Linked DNA regions of Homo sapiens: all the other regions are reported to be linked to region 2. Evidence: microRNA targets listed by miRTarBase, many of them from high-throughput screens and not tested one by one. Region 2 holds a microRNA gene; each other region holds the end of a gene's coding sequence.

Evidence for each region. The annotated mature microRNA hsa-miR-7157-3p reads UCUGUGCUACUGGAUGAAGAGU and lies in region 2 at 1,379-1,400, opposite strand. An mRNA with a match to its seed (bases 2 to 7 or 8) in the 3' UTR can be bound and repressed. Matches are read on the target gene's strand: a 7mer-m8 pairs with bases 2 to 8, a 7mer-A1 pairs with bases 2 to 7 and ends in A, and an 8mer does both.
Region 1: miRTarBase lists CSRP2 as a target of hsa-miR-7157-3p. Seed matches in the 3' UTR shown: 7mer-A1 at 759-765.
Region 3: miRTarBase lists CEBPG as a target of hsa-miR-7157-3p. Seed matches in the 3' UTR shown: 7mer-m8 at 2,003-2,009.

Annotation. Positions count from the first base shown.
Region 1 is chr12:76,856,397-76,859,657 of GRCh38, reverse strand. It overlaps CSRP2 (cysteine and glycine rich protein 2), which reads left to right. Exons shown (of 6, transcript NM_001321.3): 5 at 18-111; 6 at 630-949. The coding sequence ends at 706. Among named protein-coding and RNA genes, the nearest start is that of CSRP2, 21 kb to the left of the region's middle.
Region 2 is chr2:140,585,248-140,588,508 of GRCh38, forward strand. MIR7157 (microRNA 7157) reads right to left here and starts at 1,438; the gene lies at 1,379-1,438. The region is part of intron 43 of LRP1B (LDL receptor related protein 1B); the gene reads right to left. RefSeq lists a silencer at 1,217-1,266.
Region 3 is chr19:33,379,098-33,382,315 of GRCh38, forward strand. It overlaps CEBPG (CCAAT enhancer binding protein gamma), which reads left to right. Exons shown (of 2, transcript NM_001806.4): 2 at 47-3,218. The coding sequence starts at 143. The coding sequence ends at 595. Among named protein-coding and RNA genes, the nearest start is that of CEBPG, 7.0 kb to the left of the region's middle.

The DNA of each region.
Region 1 (3,261 bases), not on the chromosome of region 2:
ACATTCATCTCTTCCAGCCCTGGCACAAAAACTGTTTCCGATGTGCAAAGTGTGGGAAGAGTCTTGAATCAACAACTCTGACTGAAAAAGAAGGTGAAATCTATTGTAAAGGTAAAATTCATTTCAGTTACTGCTGTCCATATGAATATTCCACACTGGTTCTTGTTTAATGAAATGTCACTGGCATTAAAAAAAAAAAAAGAAAAGTATGCCACTATTTTCTGAAAATAAAATATCCCAAGATGCTTATAGATGACAGAGAACCACAGTTAAGTTCCTGATCATTTAAAACTCCCCACCAGATAAAAACACCACAAATAGCCATCTTTTGCCTTCATGTCTTGAGCAAAGCGTAAGTATATGGAAGAAAACAGACAAATACATACCTTACCTGGCCTGACTCATGCTTGCAACTCAGCAGGACCACGCTGAACACTATAGGGCCAGAATGTGTGGACTTGTCTTTGCAGCTTTAAGATATTTAGTACATGACACATTTAACATCTTAAATAAGTTGAGCTCTTTTACACAGCAGTTTAATTTATGGGGGTTTGTTGAGTGGGTCTTAAGCAGTGCTAGCAAAGCTTAATGGACTTGCACTAACTATCCTTCCTCCCTTTCCTTTGTAGGATGCTATGCAAAGAACTTTGGGCCCAAGGGATTTGGCTATGGCCAAGGAGCAGGGGCTCTTGTTCATGCCCAGTAAGATGTAAACCCTGAACTAAACATCACACACTGAGAATCTCTTCATAATCTAGGCACAGATAATCTTTAACACTAAACTACTGTGAAATTCTACCAGCATTAAGTACTGTATATCGCCCTGTACTTGGATAGGCTGGCTAACTCGTAGGAAGAGAGCACTGTATGGTATCCTTTTGCTTTATTCACCAGCATTTTGGGGGAACATTTCTTTTACATTTTAAATAAAACTTCAGCTTGATTTGGGTGTTCATTGTCTTTTAATTAATCTTTTGGAGGAGATGCTCTGATTTCAGTTAGTGGAAAGTCATTTGGTTCCCTACCTTTGTTACCCCATTACCCAGCTGACTCACTAGGTTCATGTTTGCATTACAGCTGTTGAAAAGGATCTCTCTTTCAAGCAGGCAAGTGTGCCTTAAGAGTAAAGGTTGCAGGCCGGGCGCGGTAGCTTACGCCTGTAATCCCAGCACTTTGGGAGGCCGAGATGGGCAGATCACGAGGTCAGGAGATCGAGACCATCCTGGCTAACACGGTGAAACACCGTCTCTACTAAAACTACAAAAAAATTAGCCAGGCGTAGTGGCGGGCGTCTGTAGTCCCAGCTACTCGGGAGGCTGAGGCAGGAGAATGGCGTGAACCCGGGAGGTGGAGCTTGCAGTGAGCCGAGATCGTGCCATTGCACTCCAGCCTGGGCAACAGAGCGAGACTCCGTCTCAAAAAAAAAAAAAAAAAAAAAAAAAAAAGGTTGCTAGGCAACAGGCATCATTATTTCAGCTCCTCAAAGCTGGTGTTCAGCAGTGCAGCATCTCCTCCTTTCCCTCCCCACCGTACTCTTAAGTAAGTTCTTTTGATTATACCTAAAATTCAGTACAAACAAACACCTATGGGCAATTATAGAATCAGAGACTTAGTATGATTCTTTTTAAAGACTCTACACTGTGATCTAATAGATGGTGACCTACTAAGTCCTGGAAACTGGGGTGTTTCACACATTTTGATTCTGTATAAGTAGCAAAGAATGTTGCATTGTCTGGGCACATTCAGCTGGCTTAGGTAGAAGAGGAGCATTAGACTTTATAAGGTATGGTTTCATTATTCCCCCAGAAAGTTTAGTTCTTTACTAGAGATTCAATCCAACTCCCTCACCCCCAGGAGCAGGGTGTAATAGGTCTGTAATGTGTATTATTAGTAAAATTGAACCAGCCCGTGAACATATCTTAATCTTTTCCAAGGTTCATTTTAACATACTATACTGTGTGAGTCTCGCTCTCTTGCCCAGGTTGGAGTGCAATGGTGCGATCTCAGCTCACTGCAACCTCCACTTCCTGGGTTCCTGCGATTCTTGTGCTTCAGTCTCCTGAGCAGCAGGAACTACAGGCATGCTACTGCACCCAGCTAATTTTTTATTTTATTTTTTTTAGTAGAGATGGGGTTTCACCATGTTGTCCAGGCTGGTCTTGAACTCTTGGCCTCAAGTGACTCAACCACCTCGGCCTCCCAAAGTGCTGGGATTACAGGCATGCACTACCACGCCTGGCCAATATATTGCTTATTTTGAAAAAGCTAAAGGGGATATGGTATGTACGACATCAAAAAAAATAAATAAGCAGAAACAAAGTGGGAGGAAGTTGGTGGAGGGTGTACTGGGTGCTTATTTCACATCATAGCCTTGAGCAACTTCAGGTGTTTTATGAGGCATACCAGTTCCATCATGGTGGGGCAGGAGAGGTAGTTAAGCAGTCTAGGAAATAATTGGCAATCAAAGAGGCTGAAGGAGAGAAGTTATGGAATAACTTCTGATTCTGTATGTGGTAGAACATGTCCACAAATTCTTTGACCTTCCCATCAAATGATAGTCTAATTCCCCTCTCTTTGAATAAAGGCCCACCTTAGTGACTCATTCTTAGTATTTATTATTTTGGATAAGGCTAGGTTAGAAAAGACAATACAGCTTTTGCCCACCTCTTCCTCTTAGGATGCTTACTCTTGGAATTCAGCCACCATGTTCTGAGGAAGCCCTGACTACATGAGGAAACCACATGTAGGCATTATAGCTAAGGCCTCAGCTGAGAGCTCATTCAACAGCCAGTATCAACCATCAGGCATGTGAGTGAGGCAGCCTTCAGATTATTCTAGTCTCTGGTCTTTGAGCCATCCCAGCTGATCCCAGGTGGAGCAAAGTGAGCTATTCCTGTTACGCCCTGACCAAATTGCAGATCTACGAACAAAAATGTTTTAGACCACCAAAGTTTGGGGTAGTTTGTTAGCATTCCTACCATGTTTCCCAAACTCTACTGGAGTTGCTAGTAGATATTCAAGAGGAAAAACAATGTAAATGAAGTTTCCAGGTGACTGGTAATTTGAGATTTCTGTCTGGTAAAATAAAACAAGATATCCATTCATACTTTAAATCATTCTTGATTGAGAGCCATGGCAAAATAGCTACTCCAACACTGTGAGATTAGTTTCCAGAGGTTCCAGGAGTAGAAAAAGGAAATTGGCTTTGGGCCAGACTTGGGAGGAATCACTTGGTCATTTGGATGTAAGTCAGTAACCCCA
Region 2 (3,261 bases):
ATGCATCCTATGAGGCATAAACTATTAGTCATATTCTACAGCAGAAATTAAGGTGTAGAAGGATTAAGAAATGTCCTCGGCTTACTAAACAACAGGTCTTATATCTAAGTTTCAAATTCATGTCTAAACAATCTAAGTTTATTAATTTCTCCCACATCATACTGCTTCCTGAAAAGCAGTATGTTCTATTTTACTACCAAGACTGCCTCCATGTCTAAAATATTCAAGATGTGGCACCATCTTCTTATGTATATGAATGTGTTATAAAATATATATCAAATGGCTGATCTTAGAGTTGGAAAATAATTTTAAGTCTAGCCCAAAATGTCAAATCTGAGATTCAAAAAGATTAAAATAATTGCTCAAGATCACACAGTTTTTTTGAACCAGTCCAACACTGAAACAATGTTATCTAACACTAATTTTAGTTTTCTTTTCACTTATTTCTTATTCTCACTTAGACACCTATATTTGGCAATGTCATATATTCATATAAACTTTATTATATACTCTGTGATCACATCTACACATTATCATTAAAGACAATAAAATTTAGACAACACAATCAACCATCTTTATTTTCATAATCTTTATTTCCCTTAGGTGGAAAATCAGTGATTTCAATGTCTTTGGCCTGCAGCTCATGCCATATCATGTGTGTTTAATAAGTCTTTAATAAGTCTTATTCCTGTTTAAATTCATTGGCAATGCAAGGGCCTTGTTTTACAGACTTATAGAACATAAATCAGCTTAGATCTTTAAAAGTGTCTTTAAAAAAACTCAAATAGATGTTTCCCTTTTTTTCTATTCTGAATGTCTAAAAATCTATGAGCACACTAACTTATGCTCCTAGAAAAATGGACTAGACAGACATTTCTTGATCCTTATGTACAACTTAAAACTCTAGAAATTATACATAAAACAAACATAAGGTGACTATAAAAGTAGAGAGAAAAAGCAACCCAGCTGGGTATCTTGGGACCAAGAAATTCCATGGAAGTGTGTTTCCTAAGTGTCATTTTGTCTCATATATCTCAGACTCAAATCGTATAAGCTGGCAACCCAGAAATGGCAACATACACAGAAAAAATAAAAATAATAATCTGCTCTCTCTAGCTAAAAGACCAGGAAAGAAACAACCTAGCAAGCACAGCAGAAAACTTTACTATAGCCAGCCACCACAGGAAAAAGGCTGTGACACACCCACACCAGCAAAGGCCAAGTGGGGATCCTGGGCTTCCACACACCCCTGATGGTAATGAAGTGTCCACCCCTTCTCTGCTGAGGTGGTGTCAGAAGCAGCTCACTGGAGGGTCAGGACTTCCACCATCATCCTCTAGGTGACACTGTAGAGGCCATCTAGGTAGCCTGAACTCCCACTCTTCATCCAGTAGCACAGAGGAGTCCCAATTTCATCTCTGGTGCCAATGAATGCTGAATGGGGGACCTGCTACTCCGATAGGGTAGCACCCCTCACTTTCCCCTCCTAGACCGATGTCAGGGAAAGACAGTTAAAAACAGAAGGGTTGAAAATACGGAGATACATGCAGTAGAACATGTTCAAGTTCAAACAAAATTACTCATCATACCGAGAACTAGGAAGATTTCAAAGAGACTGAAAAAATCACAACTAATAGATGCCAACACCAAGATGACAGGGGTGTAAAAATTATCTGAAAAAGATTTAAAAGTAGCTATAATAAAATTTTTTTAAAAATAAAGGCTTTAGGAAAGAAATGGAAAATCTCAGTAAAAAAAATAGAAGAAAGAAACCGGAACAAAATGGAAATTTTAGAACTGAACGTAAAATAACTTAAATAAAAAGTTCAGTGAATAAACTCAACAGCAGAATGGAGGAAATGGAAGATGTGTCAGTAAACTAAAAAGTAGAATAATAGAAAATAGCCAGTCACAACAACAAAGAAAAAGCAGAAAGAAAGAAAACTGAACGAAGCTCCAGTGACCTGTGAGACTATAGTAAAAGACCTAACATTCATGTCAAAGAGTCCTACAAGGAGAGGAGAAAGCGTGGGGCTAAAAAGGACTTGAAAAATGTCAAGGCTGAAAACCACCAATCTGGCAAGAGACATATACCTACAGATTCGAGAAGCAGACTAAAGCTCAGAGACTATAAACCCAAGACGCATCATAATTTAACTTCTGAAATTGTGATTTGTGACAACATGGGTGAACTTGGAGTACATTATGCTAAATGAAATGAGCCAGACACAGAAAGACAAATACTTCATGAGCTCACACGTGGTATCTAAAAAGTCAGACTCTTATTAGTAGAGAGTAGAATAGTAGCTACCAAAGGCTGGAGTGAAGATGGGATGGGGAATAAGATGTTGGTCAAAGGATACAAATTTCCAGTTAGACACGAGAAATTAACTTTGGAGATAAATAGCACAAAAATTAGTAAGTACATGGGTGTTATGATTAACATGTTAATTAGCCTGAAGAATCATTCCACAATACATACATATATCAAAACATCACCTTGTACTCCTGAGATATACACAATTATTATTTGCTGATTAAAAATAAAAATAAACTTCTGAAAACTAGAGACAAGAAGCAAATCTTAATAGCAGCGAGGGGGAAATGACATGTTACATAGAAGAAAACAATTTTAATAATAATAGATATCTCATCAGAAATCACAGAGAACAGAAAGAAGTGGCCCAATATTTCTCAAATATGAAATGAAAACTGTCAACCCAGTGACCTATGCCAAGTGAAAATATCAGAAATAAAGAGAACATCAAAACAGTCTCAGATGAAAGGAAATTAAGATAATATGCCACAACAGATGGCAAAGAATGGACAAAAGGAATTTTCGAAAGCAATAGGGAAGTAAGCAATTAAAGAAGAAGCCTGTGAACATCAAGAAAAAAGAAAGAACACTGTGAGCAAAAATACGGGTACATAAAAGTAGGCTTTCCTTATACTGAGTTTTCTAAGTTGTTTGATGGTTGAAGCAAAAAAAATCTAACACTGTTGTGTGCAGAGTAAATCTTGAAGATAATTATATTACAAACAGGGGAGGCTAAAGAAACATAAAGGGATGTAAAGTTTCTATGCTTCGCTTTACTGGGTAAATGGTGATGCTTGTAGACTGATAAGTAATGAATATATACTGCAGTACCTAAAGCAACTGCTAAAAAAGTTAGACAGAGAATATACCTGACGACACTATAGATATATGAAAGACATTTTGTAGATGTGGATAGATTATTCTAAAACTTATGCAAAATGGCA
Region 3 (3,218 bases), not on the chromosome of region 2:
GATCCTGTCATTTCAAATATTTTAATGCAATTTATTTTTTAACTAGGTACATGTGAAGATTTTTTGGCAGCTTAGCGTGGAAACCATTGATCACCCTGCTCTCATTTCTACCTGTTCTGTGTTGGCAAGGGAGAGTGCCCAAATGAGCAAGATATCGCAGCAAAACAGCACTCCAGGGGTGAACGGAATTAGTGTTATCCATACCCAGGCACATGCCAGCGGCTTACAGCAGGTTCCTCAGCTGGTGCCTGCTGGCCCTGGGGGAGGAGGCAAAGCTGTGGCTCCCAGCAAGCAGAGCAAAAAGAGTTCGCCCATGGATCGAAACAGTGACGAGTATCGGCAACGCCGAGAGAGGAACAACATGGCTGTGAAAAAGAGCCGGTTGAAAAGCAAGCAGAAAGCACAAGACACACTGCAGAGAGTCAATCAGCTCAAAGAAGAGAATGAACGGTTGGAAGCAAAAATCAAATTGCTGACCAAGGAATTAAGTGTACTCAAAGATTTGTTTCTTGAGCATGCACACAACCTTGCAGACAACGTACAGTCCATTAGCACTGAAAATACGACAGCAGATGGCGACAATGCAGGACAGTAGACCTCACCCTTTCCAGACTTTAGAGCTTGTGGCTTGAATGTTAAAGGTGTGACCACCGACACCACTCATGTCAATGGCTGAAAGTTGTCCATTTCCATGACTCAAAGACCCATTGGAGGCTATTTTCTGGGATCAGCACTGAAGAGTTGATTAGCTAAAAATGTTAGCCTTGTAATTCGAATATCTGGTTTTAAATGATAGAGGTTTTTGTGGGAATCAAAATCCCCCAAATGTTAAGGTATATGGTAAAAAAAGAAATATCTGGGATCCCGATGTTCTTAATAAATCCTGACTTCCCAAGAAATGCTTCTTTTTTAAGTTGACAAAAGGAATGGGGAACTGGCAGGCCGCGCAGAAGGTTCTTGGTTTTAATGGATAGGCTGAATTGGATTAAGAAAAGTTGAATGCCACCTATGGTAATCTATTTGTGATTTTCTTCTAAATTATGTATTATAAATTCGTAGAGCTATAGAAAGCAATGAGTGTGTAATTTGGAGTGATTTTATATATGGCATAAACTTTGTTTTAACATAATTAGTACTGTTTTCCCCCAAAAGTACAAGTTTTTGAGTAGCAATGTCAGGTTAAGTAAAGAAACTTCATCACATCTTATAGGTAGTGTGTGGCCAATTGACTTAAAAAATACAAATAACATTTAGGAAGCAAATAGATTAAACACAAAAATAAAACTAAAGCATAGGAATTATGTTTTTGAGATACCTTTGGGCTTAGATTGGCATTGTTTTATTCTAAAAACCCAACTCAGTGGTGTAGAGAAACTTGTGTACCAAAATTTTAGTTTCTGCAGATGCTAGTGTTTTTTTGGATACAATTTTGACAACCAAGTTAGTAAACAAAATATCTTAACAGTTTGATGACACAAGCTACTGATGAGGGTTTGGAATATTAATTCAGAAGGTAGTTTCTCTTGTGTTCAAAATAGCTGCCATGGGGCTGTTACTTTTAAAGTCAAAATTTTCTTCTGAAGGCTCATTTTGGTATTTGATCTTAACCAAGTGATTATTAGAGAAATGTATCAACTCCATGCCATCTCCCAAAATAATTGTCTAAGAAAACTTGAAAGTGTAAGGTTTTAACCTTTAATTTATTTCTCTTAAATACATCTTTTGATATTGTTGTTGTGACATTTCTTTTTCTGGTTAGTGGGCTTTCCAGACTTTGTACCACTGCTTCTGTTTATTCATTTATATGCTTTTGTGTCCCATAAATTATTTCAGAAAATGCTGATAAAACTCAGGATATTGACATTTTTGTTGAGACTAAAAAATGGCAGTCGCTAAAGTAGGGACTCTAGAGTCTGGCTTACGTCAGTGTTGGTAGTTTAGATTGTCTTTGTCAACGTTTTTTCTTCTCTCTTTTGCTTTCTTTTCTTTCTCTTTTTTTCTTAGCACAGTTCTAGCTCAAATTTGTGTATTTTTTGTGTGCCTGGGCTGGAGATGAGAGACTGAGTCATAACTGATTTAAAAGTTTGTGTTATCAGGTATCTTATTTGAACATGGTCATTTTTGGCCACATTGCTGTTTCATACTAGGACTTGGGATGATGTAGCCAGAATAAAACTCAAGTTGCACCCTCCGGTTGGTGGAAGATTGCTGACCGTGCCGTTTCTGGGCAGGAGAAGACATCATGGTGTCCAGCAACTCAGCAAAGCCATTCTTAAGAGTCGTGAGGTCCTTCTGAATGTAAAACTGGAGCCCAGGAGAAGCTGTCCCAGGAGGGCTGTTAACTCCCTATAGAGCCAGGAGACAGGATAGGGGTTTCTAGGGTCCAACACCAGCTTACCTTGGAGTATGAATCTACCCATGAAGGATGAGAGATGTTTTGAAAAACTAGCCAGGACACACCCACAGGATCCTACTGGCTCCTTAGCAGCTGATTGGTGTTACATAATTAACTTAATTGGAGATGCATTAGGTCACTTGAATGTATAAGCAAGCACCTATGGTAGGCGCTACAGACATTTAAATCTCTTGGGAATTCGATGCTCCCATGGAATTTATACCAGTTATATGAATTGACTTAAGTATCTTGAAAAAGAAACTTTAGAGAAAGCATCAGGGGTGTGTACTCAGTATTTCAAATCAGAACACAAGATTGGAACTTTTGGAAAAATGGGTTCAAGCTTTCCTATTAGCCATGGAAATGCAAAGTTTAGCAGAAGCAAGCAATTAGGCAGAGAACAAAAATGTTAAGCATGGTGTTGTCTATCTTATTGAAGTGGTTGGAAATGAAAGCTTTTAATTTGATAGATTTATCAGTATAAAATTAGGGAAACCACGTGTGGGGAATGAATCAATTTAGAGCTTCGGGAATTGTGAGGTGACTTTTGTAACTTTTGTTCTGTGTGTGACCTGTGAACCACTAGGATGTGATCTGCCCTTGTGGGCAGGTCCAGCATAGTTAGGAGTTAGGCTTTAGCATAAATTTCTAGCTGCATCTGAGTCTCCTGGGATGGGTGCTCTTTGGCTGGTTTTGGCTGCGGATGGTGAGATCAGAGCAGCTCTTCCTGCTGCTGGCCCCTGCAATCAGTTGTTGGGATGCCAGTGCAGATCACTAAGTAGTAAGATTTTAATCAAACACGACCAGGTCCGAAATGCAGGTC